Homo sapiens: one gene and its partner. The protein of the gene in region 1 interacts with the protein of each later gene in a biochemical or structural test. Each region holds a gene or a part of one and is shown on either strand. Other genes may lie near its edges.

What was found.
Region 2: the proteins of ZNHIT3 (region 1) and HNF4A form a complex in vitro, tested with the Homo sapiens proteins (one study listed by BioGRID).

What each region holds. Positions count from the first base shown.
Region 1 is NC_000017.11:36,484,259-36,488,167, reverse strand, and holds the start of ZNHIT3 (zinc finger HIT domain-containing protein 3), read right to left. Parts: upstream 1,488-3,909; 5' UTR 1,469-1,487; coding exon 1,383-1,468; intron 1,234-1,382; coding exon 1,202-1,233; intron 1-1,201.
Region 2 is NC_000020.11:44,428,579-44,432,487, forward strand, and holds part of HNF4A (hepatocyte nuclear factor 4-alpha), read left to right. Parts: intron 1-944; coding exon 945-1,087; 3' UTR 1,088-3,909. UniProt on the Homo sapiens protein: Transcriptional regulator which controls the expression of hepatic genes during the transition of endodermal cells to hepatic progenitor cells, facilitating the recruitment of RNA pol II to the promoters of target genes. Activates the transcription of CYP2C38.

The DNA of each region.
Region 1 (3,909 bases):
AAGTTCTATATATTGGTACAAGAGTGGAAATAAGCTGAAAGAATCTACATCAAGCTTTTTTTTTTTTTTTTTTTGAGACAGTCTTGCTGTCTCCCAGGCTGGAGTGCAGTGGTACGATCCTGGCTCACTGCAACCTCCTCCTCCCAGGCTCAAGCGATCTTCCCACCTCTGCTTCCTGAGTAGCTGGGACCACTGGCACAGGCCACCACGCCTGGCTTTGTTTGTTTATAGAGACGGGGTTTCGCTATGTTGCCCAGGCTGGTCTCAAACTCCTGAGCTCAAATGATCCGCCCGCCTCGGCCTCCCAAAGTGCTGGGATTACAGGCGTGACCCACCGCGCCCCACCTACATCAAACTTTTTTTTTTCTTTTTTTTTCCAGACTGAGTCTGGCTCTGTAGCCCAGGCTGGAGTGCAGTGGTGCGATTTCGGCTCACTACAACCTCCGCCTCCCGGGTTCAAGCGATTCTCCTGCCTCAGCCTCCTGAGTAGCTGGGATTACAGGCGCGCACCTCGCCCGCCTAATTTTTGTATTTTTAGTAGAGACGGAGTTTCACCATGTTGGCCAGGCTGGTCTCGAACTCCTGGGCTCAGGTGATCCACCCGCCTTGGCCTCTCAAAGTGCCGGGACCACAGGCGTGAGCCACCGCGCCCGGCCAGGTCACTTCTTTTTAACTGTACAAAAGTGTGTTCACATCATACACAGAACTTACTTGGTTCTTTTTTTCTCTTAACAAATCAAGGACGTCTCCTTGTATTGTACATGGACTTACCTCTTTGTTTCTAACAAGACATTATTTACACGAGTGAAAATACTGTTAAAGTTAGCGCAGTTTCAGCCAAATGGTGAGGGGCTACATCAGAATACTGAGGAAGAAACTGCTAGGGTAGACCTCGGTGGGAAAAGCAATCGGAAACTATTTCTAAGCAAAAAAGAGTAACACGCAGAAGGAGAAGCGGGGTAGAAGAAAGGCTACTGACCAAAACCCTGAGAGCGATTACAGGCAGGGACAACAGAGGGAACTGTCCGACACACAGAGACACCAGGGACCAAGTCAGAGGAAGCAAGGTTCCTGCAGAACCCGCGGAGACCCGAGGCGGGAAAGGAAGCGCAGCCCAAGGGTCCACGCCCCCAAGACGGAGGCTGGACGTGGGGGCTGCCCCGTGCGCAGTGGTACGAGGGCTGGCGGGGACGGGGCTCACCTTTGTGCTTCCGGAAGCAGACTACCGAGCAGCTGTAACAACAGAGGCCACAGGCCGCGTCAGCCCCGAGGGTCCCCGGCCCCTCCAGCAGCCCGCCCGCTCCCGCCCGGCCTCCCGGCCTCCCGCCCTCCCGCCATGGCCGGACACCCGCGCCCCTGGACCCCGCGACCTCCCCGCTCACTAGGGCACGCGGCAGGCTGGACAGCGGTATTTGGGCTTCTCCAAGCAGATCACGCAGACGACGGTGCTACATTTGAGCGACGCCATGGTTTTGTGGAAGGAGACTGTTCACTGCGCCGCCGCGCGCCTCTCACGCAGCCGCGCCCGCGTGCACGCCCCTTTTTCCGTTTCCTAAACGGGGACCAATCAGCGCTCAGCAGGTAGGCAAAAGCAATGGACTGATCCTGCTCACTGTTCCAGCCCTCGTACTTAGAGCGTCGATACACTCGATGCGCATCTATTAGCTGCGTCCCAGGTTTTCCTTGATTAGATCACAGCGTCGAAGAACTTGTTATGTAGCCCAGTCCCTGTCCCTATGCGGCCGTGTGGCTTGGAGCAAGCCATCGACACTGTCCAGGTGTGTTGCCCCGCATGTAAAAAAGAAAACAATACATGGAACTAAACGTCCTTTACTTTCTGGCTGGGACTTCCTGAATCTTGCAGGGACATTGGGGTTCATCCGCCCATCTCATCTGCTTATTCTTGGCAAAGGACAAGTCCAGACATTGGGCGAACCAGAATCGGTTGGATCACGCAGTAGACAGGAACCTGCCCTTCCCAACCTAGACCATTTTTCACTGGGGAAAGAAAGATGAGCCTGAACAGTGGCAAATGTTTGAGCTCCAACTGTGAGCCCTTCCGGGCTGGGGACCCCCCGGGGTCTTCTAATGAAGAAGTCGTCTCTGTCCCCTGGGAACTAAATGCTTAGAGTGAAAGTAGGACGGGGAAACGGGGAGGAAAGAGACTCACTCTTAGAGTCCTGCCGTCGCTACCCTGCACCTGCACGCCCCTGAGACTGAGTGCTTCTTAAATTTTGCACTCTAGGCTCCTCACACCTCCCCCTAGTCCCGGAAGCTAATTGACCAGGAAGCAGGCCAGTGACCACTAGTCCCAAGACGGGGATCCCAGGCAGATGAGTCTGGATAGATGGGCTATGATGGGACTTGAATGCCACCACAAACTTTAGGTTTAGAAAAAGTAATGTTTTTTGTTGTTTGTTTTTTAAGGAAATTTGCTTGCAGCTAGGCATGGCCCAGCCTTACCTTAGCTCCCATCCTACCTGCACTGGGCCCTCCCAGGGCCATAAATCACCCTTACTCCCAAGTGCCTCCTCTTCTGTGTTGGCCGTTCAGCCTTCAGGGTCCCTCTTCAATAAAGGTGTCTGCAGGGATGTATCTGCAACAACCGAGGCAGTGGTTTGAACCTTGGCTCAACCCCCTCCCTGGCTGTGTGACCTGGAGGGGTTGGTTACCCCCTCTGAGCTCCCTCATCTATTAAAGTGGATGTTTGGGCCTACTTTCCTGAGCTGTTGTAAAGCAGAGAGGAGACCATGTGCAAAAGTTTTGTAATCAGAAGTGCTACCTGATATCTAGAAAGAGTCTTAACTCTCATGGATCTCCGTCTGGACCGCATGAACATAGGTCCCAGGCCCCAAGCCATGCTCTCCAAAACAGTTCTGCCGCCTGCTTCTTGAGTGGGAGGTGAGTAATTATCCTTCCTTTGGGCGTGGCGACCCAGTCCAGTCCTCAGTGCTGAAGCTGCTGGGCCCTCTGGCCACCTGCCTGTCCTGCTTGCAGCTGCCCCAGCCTCCAACTTCTGCCCAGGACCCAGCTTAGAATCCAAAACGGGTCCACACAGGCCCAGTAACCCGCAGCGTTCCTCATATTGTTCAACAGTTGTACCACTGATGATTTGAACTTGAAGCATCCCAGAAAGTCCAAGCTTACCTGGGAAGGCCAGAGAAGGCCAGTGACTTGTCCAGGGCCATATTTAAATCCTGTGCCAAGTCGGGCATGGTCGCATCAGCCTGTAGTCCCAGCTACTTAGAAAGTTGAGGCTGGAGGCTCACTTGAGCCCAGGAGTTCAAGGCTGCAGTGAGCTATGATTGTGCCACTGCATTCCAGCCTGGATGACAGAGAGAGAGAGACCCCGTCTTAAAGACGAAAAATTTAGGCCAGGCGCAGTGGCTCACGCCTGTGATCCCAGCACTTTGGGAGGCCAAAGCAGGCAGATCACTTGAGGCCAGGAGTTCAAGACCAGCCTGGCTAACATAGCAAAACCCTGTCTGTACTAAAAATAGAAAAAATTAACTGGGTGTGGTGGTGCACGCCTGTAATCCCAACTACTAGAGAGGCTGAGGCACAAGAATCGCCGGAACTCTAGAGGCAGAGATTGTAGTGAGCCAAGATCATGCCACTGCACTCCAGCCTGGGCGACAGAGCAAGACTCTGTCTCTAAAAATTAAAAAAAAAAAAATTTAATTTAAAATCCTGTGCCCCACCAGGTAAGGTGGCTCACGCCAGTAATCCTAGCACTTTGGGAGGCCAAGGCGGGCACATGGCTTGAGCCCAGGAGTTCAAGACCAGCCTGGGCAACATGGCAAAAACCCATCTCTACCCAAAAAGATACAAAAATTAGCGGGGGGCAGTGGCTTGAGCCTGTAATCCCAGCTACTGGGGAGGCTGAGGTGGGAAAATCGCTTGAGCCCA
Region 2 (3,909 bases), on another chromosome or scaffold:
GGATGCAACAGTTTTCTGGGTTCCAGGGTAGGGAATAAAGGGCAAGATTGTCCATTTGTTGAGGCTGTTTATTCAGTAAGGTGACTGACAGCCTTTACTGAATGAAGCCATTGTTGGGATGAGGCAATCCACTGGATGAGGTAACCCATTGGGTGAAGATGTTCTTGGGTGAGAATTCCATTAGTTGACATTGTCCATTAAGTAAAAGTGGTCATTGAAGTAAGGCTGCACAGTTGGGTAAGGCTATCCATTAGACAATTAGATGAGACTACCCATTGGGTCAGGATGTCTGCTGGGCTAGACCATCCTCTGAAACCTCCAAAGTATAAACTTGTCATTGGGCAAAGCTCTTCAAAGGATAAGATTATCAATGGGATGAAGTGATCCACTGAGATAAGATGATATTTTACTGACATTGTTCTCAGGGAAAGTTTTCCATTGAACAAAGATGGCCAATTGGGTCAAATTTGCTCTCCAAACCTGCCATGAGAGTGAGGCCAATTAGTTTCTATTACTCATCTCCTAAATATCCAAGAAATGGTATTTTTTGAGCCAGCTGGTCCGGGGTTTCATCAACTGCTGCTCCTTCTCCCAGGAAAGACTATCCCTGTCACCCATCCCATTGCCGCTGGGGACAGCCAGGCCTGGGCCTTGGTTTGGGAGAAGCAGTCCAAGTCTGCATATCAAATAAATGATGGAGGAGATGGGTGGTAGGACCTTCCAGACCTCATAAAACTTAGGCTTTATGATCTGGGACTCACAGAAGGTTGAGCAATAAAAGACCTTAGGGATTATCTGGTTTAATTAATTCTCTCATTTTATAGAGGAAGAAATTAAGTCAAGGTGGGGCAGGGTGGGAGGGGAGAACTTTCCCGGGCCTCTTCATTTACTCCCACAAAGGCTGGAATTTTGAGCAGCCCCTGTCTGTCTGTTTGTCCTTCCAGCCACCCCTGAGACCCCACAGCCCTCACCGCCAGGTGGCTCAGGGTCTGAGCCCTATAAGCTCCTGCCGGGAGCCGTCGCCACAATCGTCAAGCCCCTCTCTGCCATCCCCCAGCCGACCATCACCAAGCAGGAAGTTATCTAGCAAGCCGCTGGGGCTTGGGGGCTCCACTGGCTCCCCCCAGCCCCCTAAGAGAGCACCTGGTGATCACGTGGTCACGGCAAAGGAAGACGTGATGCCAGGACCAGTCCCAGAGCAGGAATGGGAAGGATGAAGGGCCCGAGAACATGGCCTAAGGGCCACATCCCACTGCCACCCTTGACGCCCTGCTCTGGATAACAAGACTTTGACTTGGGGAGACCTCTACTGCCTTGGACAACTTTTCTCATGTTGAAGCCACTGCCTTCACCTTCACCTTCATCCATGTCCAACCCCCGACTTCATCCCAAAGGACAGCCGCCTGGAGATGACTTGAGGCCTTACTTAAACCCAGCTCCCTTCTTCCCTAGCCTGGTGCTTCTCCTCTCCTAGCCCCTGTCATGGTGTCCAGACAGAGCCCTGTGAGGCTGGGTCCAATTGTGGCACTTGGGGCACCTTGCTCCTCCTTCTGCTGCTGCCCCCACCTCTGCTGCCTCCCTCTGCTGTCACCTTGCTCAGCCATCCCGTCTTCTCCAACACCACCTCTCCAGAGGCCAAGGAGGCCTTGGAAACGATTCCCCCAGTCATTCTGGGAACATGTTGTAAGCACTGACTGGGACCAGGCACCAGGCAGGGTCTAGAAGGCTGTGGTGAGGGAAGACGCCTTTCTCCTCCAACCCAACCTCATCCTCCTTCTTCAGGGACTTGGGTGGGTACTTGGGTGAGGATCCCTGAAGGCCTTCAACCCGAGAAAACAAACCCAGGTTGGCGACTGCAACAGGAACTTGGAGTGGAGAGGAAAAGCATCAGAAAGAGGCAGACCATCCACCAGGCCTTTGAGAAAGGGTAGAATTCTGGCTGGTAGAGCAGGTGAGATGGGACATTCCAAAGAACAGCCTGAGCCAAGGCCTAGTGGTAGTAAGAATCTAGCAAGAATTGAGGAAGAATGGTGTGGGAGAGGGATGATGAAGAGAGAGAGGGCCTGCTGGAGAGCATAGGGTCTGGAACACCAGGCTGAGGTCCTGATCAGCTTCAAGGAGTATGCAGGGAGCTGGGCTTCCAGAAAATGAACACAGCAGTTCTGCAGAGGACGGGAGGCTGGAAGCTGGGAGGTCAGGTGGGGTGGATGATATAATGCGGGTGAGAGTAATGAGGCTTGGGGCTGGAGAGGACAAGATGGGTAAACCCTCACATCAGAGTGACATCCAGGAGGAATAAGCTCCCAGGGCCTGTCTCAAGCTCTTCCTTACTCCCAGGCACTGTCTTAAGGCATCTGACATGCATCATCTCATTTAATCCTCCCTTCCTCCCTATTAACCTAGAGATTGTTTTTGTTTTTTATTCTCCTCCTCCCTCCCCGCCCTCACCCGCCCCACTCCCTCCTAACCTAGAGATTGTTACAGAAGCTGAAATTGCGTTCTAAGAGGTGAAGTGATTTTTTTTCTGAAACTCACACAACTAGGAAGTGGCTGAGTCAGGACTTGAACCCAGGTCTCCCTGGATCAGAACAGGAGCTCTTAACTACAGTGGCTGAATAGCTTCTCCAAAGGCTCCCTGTGTTCTCACCGTGATCAAGTTGAGGGGCTTCCGGCTCCCTTCTACAGCCTCAGAAACCAGACTCGTTCTTCTGGGAACCCTGCCCACTCCCAGGACCAAGATTGGCCTGAGGCTGCACTAAAATTCACTTAGGGTCGAGCATCCTGTTTGCTGATAAATATTAAGGAGAATTCATGACTCTTGACAGCTTTTCTCTCTTCACTCCCCAAGTCAAGGGGAGGGGTGGCAGGGGTCTGTTTCCTGGAAGTCAGGCTCATCTGGCCTGTTGGCATGGGGGTGGGACAGTGTGCACAGTGTGGGGGCAGGGGAGGGCTAAGCAGGCCTGGGTTTGAGGGCTGCTCCGGAGACCGTCACTCCAGGTGCATTCTGGAAGCATTAGACCCCAGGATGGAGCGACCAGCATGTCATCCATGTGGAATCTTGGTGGCTTTGAGGACATTCTGGAAAATGCCACTGACCAGTGTGAACAAAAGGGATGTGTTATGGGGCTGGAGGTGTGATTAGGTAGGAGGGAAACTGTTGGACCGACTCCTGCCCCCTGCTCAACACTGACCCCTCTGAGTGGTTGGAGGCAGTGCCCCAGTGCCCAGAAATCCCACCATTAGTGATTGTTTTTTATGAGAAAGAGGCGTGGAGAAGTATTGGGGCAATGTGTCAGGGAGGAATCACCACATCCCTACGGCAGTCCCAGCCAAGCCCCCAATCCCAGCGGAGACTGTGCCCTGCTCAGAGCTCCCAAGCCTTCCCCCACCACCTCACTCAAGTGCCCCTGAAATCCCTGCCAGACGGCTCAGCCTGGTCTGCGGTAAGGCAGGGAGGCTGGAACCATTTCTGGGCATTGTGGTCATTCCCACTGTGTTCCTCCACCTCCTCCCTCCAGCGTTGCTCAGACCTCTGTCTTGGGAGAAAGGTTGAGATAAGAATGTCCCATGGAGTGCCGTGGGCAACAGTGGCCCTTCATGGGAACAATCTGTTGGAGCAGGGGGTCAGTTCTCTGCTGGGAATCTACCCCTTTCTGGAGGAGAAACCCATTCCACCTTAATAACTTTATTGTAATGTGAGAAACACAAAACAAAGTTTACTTTTTTGACTCTAAGCTGACATGATATTAGAAAATCTCTCGCTCTCTTTTTTTTTTTTTTTTTTTTTTTTGGCTACTTGAGTTGTGGTCCTAAAACATAAAATCTGATGGACAAACAGAGGGTTGCTGGGGGGACAAGCGTGGGCACAATTTCCCCACCAAGACACCCTGATCTTCAGGCGGGTCTCAG